2 separate regions of the Homo sapiens genome follow, and region 2 is linked to region 1. The links come from fine-mapping of genetic effects on gene expression. Tissue or cell type: adrenal gland. Region 1 holds a variant in brackets; the other region holds the start of a gene. All regions are shown on one strand. Distances are between the middles of the regions.

Evidence for each region. PIP is the estimated chance that this variant, and not a neighbour inherited with it, causes the effect.
Region 2: USP27X-DT starts here. The variant in region 1 is fine-mapped to the expression of USP27X-DT in adrenal gland (GTEx, PIP above 0.99).

The regions. Positions count from the first base shown.
Region 1 is chrX:50,590,962-50,599,068 of GRCh38, forward strand. It overlaps SHROOM4 (shroom family member 4), which reads right to left. Exons shown (of 9, transcript NM_020717.5): 8 at 7,305-7,574; 9 at 1-6,003. The coding sequence ends at 5,734. Among named protein-coding and RNA genes, the nearest start is that of DGKK, 120 kb to the left of the region's middle. The variant T/C (reference allele first, on the strand shown) is at 3,999.
Region 2 is chrX:49,875,028-49,883,134 of GRCh38, forward strand. It overlaps USP27X-DT (USP27X divergent transcript), which reads right to left and starts at 4,329. Exons shown (of 2, transcript NR_026742.1): 1 at 4,064-4,329; 2 at 1,697-3,720. USP27X (ubiquitin specific peptidase 27 X-linked) reads left to right here and starts at 4,457. Exons shown (of 1, transcript NM_001145073.3): 1 at 4,457-7,531. The coding sequence starts at 5,281. The coding sequence ends at 6,597. RefSeq lists an enhancer at 1-337 and silencers at 4,279-4,688, 4,729-4,808.

The DNA of each region.
Region 1 (8,107 bases):
TTCTATTTCTTGTATCACTTGTGCAAATCGTCTTAACATTAGGAAGACTTATTACAATGTTTTCTTCTAAGAATTTTATAATTTTGACTCTTACATTCTATAATCCATTTTGAGTTGATTCTTGCATGTGATTTAAGGAAAACTTCATTTTTTCCCATGTAGATACCCAGTTGTCTCAGCATCATTTGTTAAAAAACTATTCTCTCCTCAATTTCTCTTGGGACCCTTGTTGAAATTAACTAACCATATACATGAGGATTTATTTCTGGACTCTCAATTTAATTCCATTTATTTATACACCTACCCTTGTGTCTGTACCACACTGTCTTGATTACTGTAGTTTTGCAGTAAGTTTTGAAGTTGGGATGTATGAGCCCTCCAACTGTTCTTTTTAAAGATTGTTTTGACTGTTCCAGGTCCCTTGTAATTCCATATGAATTTTAGAATCAGCTTGTAAACTTACACAAGGAAGCCACTGGAATTCTGATAAGCACTGGATTGAATCTGTAGATCAATTTGGGGCACATTTCATCTTAACAATACTAAGTCTTCCAATCCATGAACATGGAGTGTCTTTCCATTTATTTTGATCTTCTCTAATCTCTTTCAACAATGTTTTATAGTTTTCAGTGTAAAAGTTTCGCACTTCTTTTGTTAAATTATTCCTAAGTACTTTTTTCTTTTTGATGCTATTGTAAATGGAACTGTTTTCTTTCTTTCTTTCTTTCTTTCTTTTCTTTCTTTCTTTCTTTCTTTCTTTCTTTCTTTCTTTTTGAGACAAAGTCTCACTCTGTTGCCCAGGATGGAGTGCAGTGGTGTGGTCTCAGCTCACTGCAATCTCTGCCTTCCAGGTTCAAGCAATTCTCCTGCCTCAGCCTCCCGAGTAGCTGGGACTACTGGTGCGTGCCACCACACCTGGCTAATTTTTTGTATTTTTAGTAGAGATAGGGTTTCACCGTGTTAGCCAGGATGGTCTTGATCTCCTGACCTCGTGATCCACCTGCCTCGGCCTCCCAAAGTGCTGGGATTTCAGGCGTGAGCCACCATGCCCGGCCGGAACTGTTTTCTTAATAACATTTTCGGATTGTTCATTTGATCTTGTGTTTTAACCTTGTATCCTGCAACTTTCCTAAATTCATCCAGGCAGGTAGTTGTGAGCAACACGAGAAGAGCAAGAATATGCCTGGGATAAGGAAAAAATGAATTGAGTAGATCAGGACTATAATAATGGTTACCATGTACTGAATATGTTTTCAACAAGTCAGTACTTCCCATGCTGTAATATGTTCATGAATCTCCTGGAAATCTAGTTAAAATTCAGACTGCTATCACTGGGTTTGGGGTGGGCCTGGGATTCTGCCTAATAACTTCTTGGATTGTTAGTGGCTTTTATTTATTATTTTCAAGTTACAATAACTGCAAGCAAGATAATACTGTTCCCATTTTACAGATAAGAAAATGACCTCAGAAGTTGAGCTAGTAGCCCAGGTTCATTGAATAAGTGGCAGAACCAGGATTTGAACACAGTTCATTCTAATGCCAAAGCTGGACTCTTTCTACTCTACCACAATGGATATCTTGAGTAGAAGGAGGATAGTTGGAATGTGAACAGAATATGGATCACGAAAAAAGAAAGCTTTTCAATGTCAGAGTTGCTTCCTGGAATACATTTGAGTCTAATCTTTGAGGTTGCCTTGGAGAGCAGATCACCAAGGCCCTTGCTTTCCAGGGAGCTGAGCATGAAGGTGTGAGATTGGACTATCAGCTAGAAGTAAGATGAAAATACTAGACAGAATTCAAGATTGGAAGAAGTCTAGAAAGAATGGCTTACCTTCGATCAGGCTAGACTCCAGAACTAGACTCTGTATACTGCTTAGGTCTATACCTGAGATTACACCTATTGTTGACTTTTTCTGCATTCTAAACATGGGGTTAGACTGGATGTGATGTTGCCACTGAGTAACCAGAGAGGAAGAAATATATCAGTGAGCTAAAGGGCAGGGCTGTGATCCTGAGATCCTTCTGAGTAGAAAAATACCATGCTTCAATACTGTGATAACAACAGAAATAACCAATGGCTTAAACTCTGTACCCCCTACTCAGGATGGTCTTGAAATAGATGTCTAAAAGCTGTTCCCCTAAAAAGGCTATGGCAGATCCTGCTATTTAACTGGGGATGATGAATGGTATAGCATCAATACCATCCCTCAGAGGCCAGGGTAAGGGTTTAGGGATGTGGGTAAGGGTCTGGTCATATGTTTATCTGTGAAGGACTATGGATAGGTGACCAAATTCCTTTCCAGTACTTTTCAGCAGAATCTTTAGACTTCCATCACCTGAGTTAAAACACATGAGATTTTTTTTTGTCCTTAGCACCTTTTATTGAAATATGACCCTTGATGACAATCTGGCAGGCATATCTATGTCAGCCAAGAAGGGAGTGGTGGAGGACACAAATGCAGAAACAACAAGATTTGGAAAAAGAATAGCTTCACATGGGATAGATGACCCCCAACAGCTGTACAACCAACACTGGTTCTTCATCTATAGAAACTGTCCCCTGCCCCACCCCCCCAAAAAGATCTACTAATCTTCAAATAATATAATATGCTGTTGCAGAAATATTATTGGCATAGACGACTCCTCTGGCAAAGCTCCAAATGGGTGGAAGTGGCCAGAAATGGGCCCAGCTTCCTCCATCTGGGGCTTGCTACTGGCAGAGCAGCACTGTCAGGGAGGGTCGGGTTCAGGATGTGGCTCTGGTGTGCCTGGGCAGCTTTATGGCACATGAGGTTAAATGGAAAACAGAACCTGAACCTAACCTTGAAGGAGGCTTTTTATCTTTTCACCTCTCCTTTTCTTTGCTTCCAATTTCTTCCTTTCTAGGGCTTTATTTTCAGTGTCTCTGTCTTATTCTGTCAGATTCTACTTGGGCATTTACAGCTATATCCTGGTTGAGTCTCCAGCTGTGGGACTCAGGAAGATTCAATTATCCAGAGCCCTGGGAGGTGGCAGGAGGGGTTGGGGGGACATGTGATAGTAACTCATGCACTGACTTCTCTATCAGCCATCATGCTTGCCTATTACCCATGGGGGCCTGTATAAGTATTTGACGGGAGACAGCAGAAGTTAAGACTGATAACTGTCTTTGGGGATCTCCCTTGGCCTGCCTTCCAAACTGCTACTCACTGGCAGGCCTTGGAGGAGGGCTGAGCCCAGGAACTGAGAACAGGGGAGAGAGACTGCATCTCAAGTAATACTGGCAGTGTTGCAGCACCGTCACACACAATGAGACTGCCCTGGCAGGAGTGTGGCACGCCAGTGTCTGTTTAGCAGTTCACCTTTATCTACCAAGCTTCACTGCTAGATATACTTTTGGGGTTATTTTTTAAATGCTTTGGCAACTTTCCCTCCATGTGAAAATGAGCATCCTTGTGTTCTGATTCTAACTCTAGAAACTAATTTGAGATGGGATTAAGAACAAAAATAACAGAGTTAATAGTATTTTTGGTGTCATAAACTTAAGGTACAACCAATCACATGCTGACTAGAAAAACTCAAGACTATGGCCATAGTGTCCAGGTAAGTGACCGTTCTTTTCCCTAGGCCCATATTCCCAAAAAGGTGCTCTAGCCCACAAATTCTGAGAATGATGAAACATATCAGCCTCATCCTCCCAATACAGGACATCTCAATTTGCTCATTGTTTGTCCTAGAGCCTGCTCAGAAGAAAAGATGACAACTATGGCCTCCATTGAAAGCACTCCCCTACCTTCTCAATCTTGGCTGGCTTGTGTAAGCCTAGCCCCTGCAAGCCACCAGCCTTCCTGAATAAAGTAGAATCTTCCACTGGAGGGGAGAATGGCAGGGTTGCCATTCTAACAGTGTTTCTGGCAGCAGTACTAAGAGCAAACCCAGAGCTCCACAGAAAGGCTTACCCCACCCCCTACCCCAGGACACCCTGCTGGCCAAGATTCTCCCATTGTTTTCAAATACAA[T/C]GAAGAGGAAATGGAAGCTAGTGACAAGTATTTGTAACAGCAGCAAAAGTTCCTTGGCAAATTCTTTGGTTGAATGAGACATCCCTGCTGCTACAGTTGACCTTCAAGGACCCTGAGGAACTCAGCAGTAACTAGAAGAGATGCCAGGCCTTGGCTGGGTTGTGTGATACCAAGGATTGGCCCCAGTTAGTGAGGAACAGGGAGCTAAGCTGGATAACAGGGCAGCATTTGGCCATAACCCCCTTCTTGCCATCGTCCACCTGAGGGCTGCTTTTCCAGCATAGAAACTAGCTACTGGTGTCAGGGCCTTGGCAACAGCAGCAGTTTTAGTTGTTTGTATGCCTAAGATCCTGGCTGGGTCTTCAATTGCTCTGGGGAGCTGGCTCTGGCTGGAGCTCCCAGCTACCTTGAGTTTTGGTTCCCTTGAGCCAGGCCACAGGCTGAGAAAGCAATGGTTAGAGGAGTTCCTTCTGAGCTCACCTCTACTGATCCCATAGCTTGGAGATGGTAGAGAAATGACTGAACCTTTCTCCATTTCAGGAGATTTCTTTGGTTTCAAAAAGAAATCAGTAAGAAAAACTTAAACCCTGCTGGGGAATGCTAAACTCAAGTCACTTAGACTTTAAGGGAAGCACAAGGCCAGGCCACAGTAGGGAGGCTCTGAGTTCAAGGGGAAAACTCCTTCCTAGACATCGGTAGCTATGGTGGGAACAATTCAACGCCTTGGCACTTGCTTACCTAGCCACGGTGGATTCAGGCTGATCTGCAGAAAATGCTTTCCTTCTGGGCTAACTTTTCCCTCTCCAACTTCCCTCTTCTCGCCTTATTAGTTAAAAAAGAAAAAAATAATCAAAACATAAAAATAAATAAAATCAAAAGGCCATTTAAAATATAACAATAAGAACCCCCTCCCCCAATAATGAAACCTACATCTAGAAGTCAGTTTTAGTAGAGCTATTAATGGCCCATATGGTGAAGCCCTGGGGTAGGCACCTGCGGTAACCCCCAGCAATGTAAAGGAAAGATGAAACAAGAGGTGGTAGGACCAAAGTCTTAGGACAGGAAGAGGGTCACACTAGCCAGGGCTAAGAGTAGGCCTCTTCCCCTGAACTTGCTGCTGGGAAAGGTAAGGGTAGAGCCTATTTAAACCTGGTTCCTTCCTAAGGGGCACCTGGGGGTACTCAACCTTTGCTTGCATTTTTTTCAGTGTAATTCCTCCCTCTGTGCTTTCCCCTGCAAAGCTTGGGTGAGGCCCTGAAACTGGTGCCAGGTGAATGCCCTCAAGGCAGCCAGCTCTCTGTGAGAAATGGCTGGCCACAAGCCCTGGGGCAGAGTAGAGCTGCAAGGCAGATTCCCTCTGAGCCTTTAGAGGCTGTTGATGATATGGGTGGGTGATGAGTACTTGATGTCTTTGGTGTCCTAGTACAAAGCAGAATGAAGGCACTTCCTTGGTTCTCTGTGCAGCAAGTACTTGCCCTTGGCAACTGTGGGAAGGAGAGTGTGGTTCTAAGATCACACCTTGCTGCAGCTCCCTTGGGTAGAAGCTTGTGGCTTCCCCAGGGTCTCCTAGCTGGTTAGGACCACTGCTAGGGAAGGGGTAGTGAGAGACATCCAGGGTAGAGGGCTGGAACAAACTGCTAATTGCTATCTACTTGCTGAGAAACTGCTAACAAAGAAGATTGAAAGCACTTCCCACATGGCTGGGCAGGGATGCTGTGGCAGAGTGCTGGTAGAATTAGAAATTGCTGGGCCCCAGGAGTAGACTCTCCCTGAGACATTTGAGTTGCTCTTCCCCGAGCTTGATCTTCTCCTCCAGCTCTCGCTGTTCAATGATGAGAGCAGATTTCATCTTGACAAAGTGCTGGTAATCTTGGAGCTGGTCCTGAGGCAGGTAGCGGGAGACCATGCCAAACACCAACTTCTCCCGGCGGTCCACGTGCTCCTTCAGCTCCTTGGCATCTGCCAACTGCCCCGTCAGCTGCTGCTTCTTCTCTATCAGTACCAACTGGGGAAGCAGAGGACCAAGTAAGGGCTCTCTCAATTACCAGGCATCTGTCCAACAGTGCTGCCTAGCAGTACTCCACCAGAGATGCTGCCACAAAGCAGCTATACATTCTGCTAATTAGTCAGTCCTAGATTTTCTGCCCTGAAGTCTACCTCCATGCAAAAGCCTTTGTTTCCTGTAGCAGGAGGGTAAACATGACAACAATTCTGGATAGGGGATGTGAAATTACCTCTTTCCATCTCTTTAACGCTGTCTTCAATGTAGGGACCACCACTGGGCTTGGGGTGGAGGAAGGCTCTGACAAAGCCAGCCTGTGTCCCTTTCACCTGGTGAACAACTGTCACTGTGGAGGTGCTTTCTGTATGATGTGTGTGTCTGTGTGAGTGGATATGTGTGAGTGTATGTGTCTGTGTATGTATGTATATGTATGTAGATATGTGCCTCTTGTTGTGGATTCAAAGGTATATCCAAAGCCACCTGTATAGGGAAAGGTGATGCAATTTTGGTTCAGGAGTATATGCATAGTGACCCAACCTGTGAAACTGACAGCTTTCCAATCTCAAATACTTGATGAGACCTCCCCCTCCAACTCTAGAGTGAGGCAAAACTGCTGCTGCTACTACTACTACTGGGAGCTAGCATTGATTCAGTGTTTACCCTGTCCCAGGCCCTGTTTTATGTAATTAACATAAACTAATTTAATTCTCACAATAATCCCATAAGGCAGGTAGTATGCTCACCTCATTTTACAGGTGAAGAGATTGAGGCAGAGTGACGTTATGTAAGTTGTCCACAGTCACACAGCTAATAAATGGTAGGGCAAGAATTTCAGGGCACTTAAAAGCCAGTGTTCACACTCTTATTTTTTTATTTTATTATTATTATTTTTTTTGAGACAGGGTCTTGCTCTGTCACCCAGGCTGGAGTGCAGTGGCACAATCTTTGCTCACGGCAGTCTCCGCCTCCCAAGCTCAAGCAAACCTTCCACCTCAGCCTCCGGAGTAGCTGGGATTATAGGCATGCGCCACCCTGCCAGACTAATTTTTGTATTTTTAGTAGAGATGGGGATTCACTAAGTTGCCCAGGTTGGTCTCAAACTCCTGGACTGAAGCAATCTGCCCGCTTTGGCCTCCCAAAGTACTGGGATTACAGACATGAGCCACCGTGCCCATCCTCAGTGCTCACATGCTTTTAATCCCATGCTCTACTGTTTCCTATAGTAGCCCAACTTGAAAGAGGGAGCCCTGAGAAGAAACAAATGGTATTTCCCTCTACCCACACCCCACAGACCCCAACTCTACCTTCTCCTGGTTGGCCTCTGAATCGATGCTGTTCAGAGCATTCTCCACCCGGGCCAGTCGTCCAGAGAGTGACAGCAACAGGTTGACCACTTTGTCCAGGTCCCCAACAAACAAGTGGTACTTTTCAAATTCATTGGATTTGCAGACGGCTTTTAAGTTGGCCTCCACCTCCTCCCCAAGGGCAGAATTGGCATTGATGTCCTCTAGCAGCCCTCGCTGGGCCTCCCGCAAGACAGAAAGTTTTCTGCTGATGCTTTCGATAAGCTGTATCTAGGGGAATTAAACAGGAGAAGACAAAGGATGAGAATGGGGATCAACAGAAACTGATTTGTGCCTGTAACCTCTGTTTTGGAATCCAAGGAACAGATGGTGGGCTCTATCCTAGTCACTGGAAACAAAGGAAACTTGGGCAAGTCATGAGCAACTCCAGTCTTTTGGGCAAGCACCTTCTATCCGTCTGGTAGGGATCTCCATGTCACCACCAAACTTTTTGGCATTGGGTAAGTGGTATCCATGCACTAAACTTCATTTACCAGATGCAACTTAATAAATACTTGCTGGCACTTTGTTTTTTTTTTGAGATGGAGTCTCACTCTGTTGCCCAGGCTGGAGTGCAGTGGCACGATCTCAGCTCACTGCAACCTCCGCCTCTCAGGTTCAAGCGAGTCTTGCGTCTCGGCCTCCTAAGTAGCTGAGGTTACAGGTGCATGTCATGGATGCCAGGCTAATTTTGTGTGTGTGTTTGTGTGTGTGTGTGTGTGTGTGTGTGTACTTTTAGTAGAGATGGGGTTTCATGATGTTGG
Region 2 (8,107 bases), 720 kb before region 1:
GCACAGTTTCATCCGGAAACCATCTCCCCGCCCCTGAAGCCCCCCATCCCTTCCCAACCGCCGTTAAAAAAAAAAAGTCTTCCACAAAACGGGTCCCTGGTGGTGCCAAACAGGTTAGGGATCGCTGCCCTAAACAATAGAGTACGGCAACTATTTACATAGCATCTGCATTGTATCAGGTATGATACAAAAAGTAACCTAGAGATGATTCAAAGTAACCTAGAGATGATTCAAAGTAACCTAGAGATGATTCAAAGTATATGAGGGGCTGTGTATAGGTTATATGCAAATACTACACAACATTTTATATCAGGGACCTGAATCTCTATGGATTTTGGTATCCACAGGGGTCCTGGAACCAATCTCCCACGGATTACCAAGGGACAACTGCATGTATAAAACATGCTTGTATTTGCATAGACAATTTCTTAAAGGCTAAATGTGAAAGTGCTAACAAGTAGTTATCTCAGGGGAATAAAAATGGGTGTGATTGGCGGGGGAGGGAAGAGCTTTAACTTTTCATGTTATGCCTTGTATACCTTGTTATTAAAAAAACACGAATATTGTATATATTACTTTTATAATAATAAATATAAACTAGCAACTTTTAAAGTGGAATGTGCATCACCCTGGAGTACAGGAGTTTTAAGGGGATCAATTTCTATATCCTCAAATTTCCTGTGTAGTCTTTTAAAATTGACCTGCCAGAGAACATACTTGCAGTGTAGGAATCAAACTGGTTCTCTTTTTCTATCTCCCCTTTCACAATGGTCCTTTTTGCACTTTACAAAAGAAAAAGCATATCTTTTACCTATCCTGAATCTTAACCTGGGTGCGCTGCCCTGTGATGTAAAATCCTTGGGGCACAGGAGAGACAATTCCGAACAATGCTGACGATGGTAAACAAACAACTTGCTCTAACAAATGAATGGGGATAAAATCCTTTTGCAACTCAGATGGTTTCCAATTCTTTGCTTCCAGTAGAATTGAAGAAAAAACCTATGAAGTTATCAGCTGATAAATCATGAGAAATAATTTTGAGGATAAATCATTGTGTAATTTCCCCCCATATATCTCCAAAGGAATTCAAAGACTTGCGTGCATTGCTAAAACAAAATGTCCATTCCTATTCACTTATTCATATAAATGAGGTTTCTGTGTGCTAACATTTAACCAAACAAAAAATAGGAAGAGAATTGATGCTGAAGCCTATCTCATTCTAGCAAAAAGCAATGTTTATCCATGGATACACCCATTAATTTTTTTTAAAAAAGCCCTATCTACAATGAACTTTTGTTTTACGTTTAATAATTACCTATCAAAATTTGTAATATATTCACAATGTTTTGATCCATTTTATTCTAATACTAATTGTCATGATAATTCAAACAAGAGCAAATTTTTAAACAACACTTAGAGCCTTATAATCAGAGGAACATTTAAAGAGCATTTAAATTGAAAAATATATACACATTTTTGCTGCAGAGAAATACGATAGGATAATCAAAAACATTTCAAGTGAAAAAACAGACAATTATTGAGACAAAATTCTGTTGGAAAAACAGAATGGAATTAAGAGCTGAGAAAAGGGAAAATGTACAACTTCCAAGTATCAAAGAAGAGCTCAGTTATACATTTTTAAAACAGATGATGGTGGCTCTCAAGTCACTAAGGTATTTAGGTTTCACCGGATTCATGTGAAATAGTGACATAACAGTTTTATTTTTGAATATTAACATTTGTCACAAATTACATTATTTGTAGCCAATTGACATTTGTGATGCAAAATATCAGACATCAACCCAAAAATGTGTGAAGGAGCACACGTTTTTCTTAATATTTTTAGAGAGCATTTTATATAAACCAATAGTTTTATATAAACATACAAAACATATATGAGGAATTGTCATTTACTCTTTTGCCACCTTGTGGTCAGAGTTGGATTTATCACCCAGGTGCATCTACTGCGAAGGAGAGCTGTCTCTCCTAAGGATAGCCCCAACTGCCTGCATTCTGTCAGATCTTTGTGAGGCAGAGATGGTAACATTTGCTAGGATCTGGGTCCAGATCCACATAAGGACAAAGCATCTAAAGATTTTGGTGACACCCTCCACACGTGATTCAAAACAAAAGCATCATGTAATCAGGAAATGAATGTAAGGAAGTACAACAAAGTTCTGATTTTTCCCACGAGGACTACTTAAAAAAAATCAAATGTCAAACTGTTTCTGGTATTTTTTCTTTTTTGATTTTTTGTCTTTGGTGCCTCTTCTCTGCTAGTGACATAGACTTTCCTTAGTGTGCCTTTTGGGGAAGCCATCCCTGATTTCAGTAGCCCTGGAGTAAGTTGGAGTGCTGTGTCCACAGCTCTTGGTACATCTGGCCCTCGGTCAGTGCAGAATAAACATTTGTTGAGTGAATGGTGACAGAGCCCTCCATTTTCAGAACACGCTGGCCTGGGCAGAGTCCAGGTGGACCTATGGGCTTCTGCAGGAAGTTGATCACTAAGTCAACAAGTTACCATGGCTAATCTTCAATGGTAGACAGTCCCAGGTACACAGAGATCTTTAGGTCTTTTTGTTGTCAGTCTGGAGGTGGGATGAGAGTATCCTCCACCCCCTCATCCATGACCTCGGTTGTTTTTAGCAGCAGCAGCAGCAGCAGGATTCCTTCAGTGAGTGTGCTAGTTGCAGTTCCTCTGGTTGCAGGCCACAAAGGGCAGGCATTTATTGAAAGGATGCTGGGGTGCTTCAAGGAATTGAAGCAAGAGCTGACTCAGGAAGGGTAGGGCCCAGGGCAACCCTCAGTTTTATGGGAACCACGCATCCTCCTTTCAAGGGCTCCTGATTCCTGAGGCCCAACTCCTGCTGCTAACCCTAGGAGGCCTCCCCATCCCCTCCCTAGAGGAAGGGGCCAGGTGGAGAGCTGATGTCCAGTGCTGAGCAAGGAGAATGTTGCTAGGGTATGTATACTCAGGCAGCACAGCCACACAAGCCAGACAGCGTGCACTAGGCTACAGCCAGCCACCACCAGGATTAGGGGACTAGACTCTTCCTAGAACACTCTTTCTCCTCCTACTCCTGTCCTGATGCCTGCCCTGGGCTGCACTCTCTGGGACCAGCAGCTACAGCCCGACACCCTCGAGCCATGACCCAGGTCTGAGCCACTTGCTCTGGGCACACTCCTCGTGGGCTCTGGGGTGCTGCTGCCCAGTGCCAGCAGCCCCTTGGCACAGGGGTTCCCAGAGGCCTCTCAGCCTCATGTCCGACTCCCTCTCCCTGCTGGCAGCTCCACAGGCTTCTTTCCACTTCCACCTGCTGCCCCCCTCCCCCGGGATGCTGCCAGGGCTTAAGGGTCTTGGGAGTGTGTCCTGTAGTTTAGGCCCCCTCTCAGCTGTAGGGGAAGTGCCAGCTGTAGGGATGGCCTTGTCGTGCCTCGTCCCTCCAGCTGGCCTTGGAGAGAAGAGGTGGATTGTGCCATCGGGCTGCTCAGCGTCTGCTGGGCCAGGAGGCCGGCTGTCAAGCCATTAACCCACCCGTGGCCTTGGGAGCCCAGGAGGACGCGAGCAGCAGGCCCAGACCCTGCAGAGCGCTGATAAGATGGGCCAGGGACGCGCCTCTCCAGGCCCAGCGGCCTTGGTAGCCCGGCCCCCCCGGAGCTGGGGTCCAGGCCTCCCCAGAACTGCAGCTGGAGCTTCATCCTTTTCGGGAAGCGCAGGACCTGGCGTGGGAAGGGAGACAGGGACGAGGCTAGAGGCAGGCTCGGCCGCCGAAATGATGGCCTGTCACGGCTTCTGCCTGCGCTCCCTAGGACCCCCCTCAGAGGGGACATTTCACAGCCTCAGAAACATTTCTGGACTTGGCACCCGCTCGGCCCCCAGCCCCGCAGTGGCCGAGGGAAGCCTGCATAGACGAGGGGAAGGACGAGGAGAGGGGAGGAGACGATGAAGGGGGTCAGAGCAGCGATTGGAGCCGAGAGCTGGAAGCGCCTTAAAGAGACTGCGCGGTCCCCGCCCCCCTTCCCGCCAGCCTCAATGAATTAGAGCTGTGTTTCCCAAACTTGCCTGATCATAAGCAGCCTCTGGGGCCCTAGTTAGAGATACAGGTTCCGGAGTACCTCCCTTCGAGATTCTGATTCAGTAGGCCTGCGGGTGGAGCCAAGGAATCTGTAATTTTAACACGCTCCCCACGTGATTCTCGTGAACAAGCAAGTTTGGAAAATACTGAATTAAAGGAAACGGGGCCTGGCTGCAGAAGCAGCCTCCACTAGGGGGCTTCGGCGGGAGGATTCCCGGGGGCGTCGCCTGCTTCCGCCGCCGCCTCCTTCAGTGAAAGTCCCTTTTGGGTCCAGCTGCCACAGCCACCGCGCTCCCTCAGGCCGGGCGGGGGACACCCCAGGTCTGCGTGGCCCCCGCGCCGCCACGCCCAGTGGCCGCCCGAGCCCTGCGAGCAGGGGGAGGAGCCGCCGCCAGTGGAGGCGGAGGAGGTAGAGGAGGCGGAGACGGCGGAGAAGGCGGAGAGGAAGGTGGAGGCGGAGGCGAAGGTGGAGGGGAAGGCGGAGGCGGCGGGGAAGGCGGAGGCGGCGGGGAAGGTGGACGCCACCGAGAAGGTGGAGACGGCGGGGAAGGTGGACGCCGCTGGGAAGGTGGAGACGGCGGAGGGTCCGGGCCGCCGGGCTGAGCTCAAGCTGGAGCCCGAACCCGAGCCGGTCCGGGAGGCGGAGCAGGAGCCGAAGCAGGAGCTGGAGGATGAGAACCCAGCGCGGAGCGGCGGTGGCGGCAACAGCGACGAGGTTCCTCCCCCCACCCTTCCCTCCGATCCACCGCGGCCCCCCGATCCCTCTCCGCGTCGCAGTCGTGCGCCGCGCCGCCGACCCCGGCCCCGGCCCCAGACCCGGCTCCGTACCCCGCCGCAGCCTAGGCCCCGGCCCCCGCCCCGGCCCCGGCCCCGGCGCGGCCCTGGGGGCGGATGCCTGGATGTGGATTTTGCCGTGGGGCCACCAGGCTGTTCTCACGTGAACAGCTTTAAGGTGGGAGAGAACTGGAGGCAGGAACTGCGGGTTATCTACCAGTGCTTCGTGTGGTGTGGAACCCCAGAGACCAGGAAAAGCAAGGCAAAGTCCTGCATCTGCCATGTGTGTGGCACCCATCTGAACAGACTCCACTCTTGCCTTTCCTGTGTCTTCTTTGGCTGCTTCACGGAGAAACACATTCACGAGCACGCAGAGACGAAACAACACAACTTAGCAGTAGACCTGTATTACGGAGGTATATACTGCTTTATGTGTAAGGACTATGTATATGACAAAGACATTGAGCAAATTGCCAAAGAAGAGCAAGGAGAAGCTTTGAAATTACAAGCCTCCACCTCAACAGAGGTTTCTCACCAGCAGTGTTCAGTGCCAGGCCTTGGTGAGAAATTCCCAACCTGGGAAACAACCAAACCAGAATTAGAACTGCTGGGGCACAACCCGAGGAGAAGAAGAATCACCTCCAGCTTTACGATCGGTTTAAGAGGACTCATCAATCTTGGCAACACGTGCTTTATGAACTGCATTGTCCAGGCCCTCACCCACACGCCGATACTGAGAGATTTCTTTCTCTCTGACAGGCACCGATGTGAGATGCCGAGTCCCGAGTTGTGTCTGGTCTGTGAGATGTCGTCGCTGTTTCGGGAGTTGTATTCTGGAAACCCGTCTCCTCATGTGCCCTATAAGTTACTGCACCTGGTGTGGATACATGCCCGCCATTTAGCAGGGTACAGGCAACAGGATGCCCACGAGTTCCTCATTGCAGCGTTAGATGTCCTGCACAGGCACTGCAAAGGTGATGATGTCGGGAAGGCGGCCAACAATCCCAACCACTGTAACTGCATCATAGACCAAATCTTCACAGGTGGCCTGCAGTCTGATGTCACCTGTCAAGCCTGCCATGGCGTCTCCACCACGATAGACCCATGCTGGGACATTAGTTTGGACTTGCCTGGCTCTTGCACCTCCTTCTGGCCCATGAGCCCAGGGAGGGAGAGCAGTGTGAACGGGGAAAGCCACATACCAGGAATCACCACCCTCACGGACTGCTTGCGGAGGTTTACGAGGCCAGAGCACTTAGGAAGCAGTGCCAAAATCAAATGTGGTAGTTGCCAAAGCTACCAGGAATCTACCAAACAGCTCACAATGAATAAATTACCTGTCGTTGCCTGTTTTCATTTCAAACGGTTTGAACATTCAGCGAAACAGAGGCGCAAGATCACTACATACATTTCCTTTCCTCTGGAGCTGGATATGACGCCGTTTATGGCCTCAAGTAAAGAGAGCAGAATGAATGGACAATTGCAGCTGCCAACCAATAGTGGAAACAACGAAAATAAGTATTCCTTGTTTGCTGTGGTTAATCACCAAGGAACCTTGGAGAGTGGCCACTATACCAGCTTCATCCGGCACCACAAGGACCAGTGGTTCAAGTGTGATGATGCCGTCATCACTAAGGCCAGTATTAAGGACGTACTGGACAGTGAAGGGTATTTACTGTTCTATCACAAACAGGTGCTAGAACATGAGTCAGAAAAAGTGAAAGAAATGAACACACAAGCCTACTGAAGTGACACACAGACCTACCTGCAATGGAAGATGACGACACCAATACTACAACTGGCATCGAGATCTAAAGGACCTACTTGACCATGGCCCATGGGCCTGACAGAGTAAGAATTGAACAGTACCCAGTGTCCAAAAGGTCCTGATTGGAAGAGAAATAGAAGGGGAGGGAGAAGAGGCTCTAGTCTAAGCAGTTGATGAAAGGGAAATTAAATGGTAGAAACACTCTGGGTGAGGAAGGCAGGAGCAGGAAAATGCTGACACTGGTACATATCCTATATTCCTCCAAAAGATTGTGTGGGAAAGTGTGGGGGGGAGGGGGGTGGTGGGGGGGGAGTGTGCCCTTGTAACCGTAAAACATCTTTCTCCATGGGTGTTTCAGCTTCAATTGACCAATCACATAACAGTTATATGTTTGGGGGGAAAAAGAAAAGTTTCTAAAAAATGTAGCCCATTACATATATGGGTATGAAAGCAGAAAAGTGGAGGAGGCAGGGATATCATTGACAAACACCTTTGCCAGTTTCTTTGTATTCGTGATTTTTTGTGCTATTAAATGCAGTATTAAAACAAGAAAAGCCCACCTGGGCTAGTGAAAGGAGAGGAAATAAGGGGGCTTGTAAAAGGGGAGCCGTCGCTCCAAAAGTAGAGAAGACAAGAAATGCTGTAAGATAAGCAACCAACGCAGACAGGCCTCAGCTAAGAGTATAGTGTGTGTGTGTTAAAAAAAAAAAAAAAAAAAGAAAAAAAAAAGCTGTATGATATACTTGAGCAAATCAATGAACCTCTTTGCGATTGTTTTATCATCTGTAAAATGCAGATAATTCCTACCTTAAAGGGTTATTGTTAAAGATAAAATGATATAAAAATGTGTCAAAGTATAAAGTAAAAGGCTTGGAACTTTGTAGGGACTCAGTAAACGTTTGTTGGATCCAAACCTGAAACTTCTTTGGACCAGGCCCAGAATGCATCAGAGGTGGGGGTCAGTCCTGCCTGAGACCCCTGGACAGAAGGGACACACATCATGTCACATACAGTCACACACACATTCTCCACAACTCCCTCCCCAATGCTGTCTATTTAGAGTACCAAGGCAATGAACTCCACTTTTGTCCCTTGTGTGCAGGGCATCACAGTGGGTGCCACCTGGGATTGGGGGTGGAAAGGACCACAGCTGTCCCATAAGGTCATTATTCTGTCCTTTTGGAGGACAGTCATGTTGCTTTCATGATTCAGATCCCAGTGATGGGACTCTCATGGCCAGTAGGCTGCCAGGCTTGCACACGAGGGAATTTGGTGGTCTTCGTCTTCTAAAAACATTATGGGTTCGGTTGCTATGTTTACTCACAGGCACAGATCAGTAGAAAGACTGTTTTCCAAAGTTCACTGGCCCATCAGCCCAGGGATATTGATAGAGTGGCTTGTTGGCCCCTTCCCTGATACTGTCAGAGGGCAGAGCAGCCTGCAGAGAGCTAAGCCAAAACAGATGGGATGAACCCAGGATGGGGTAAGC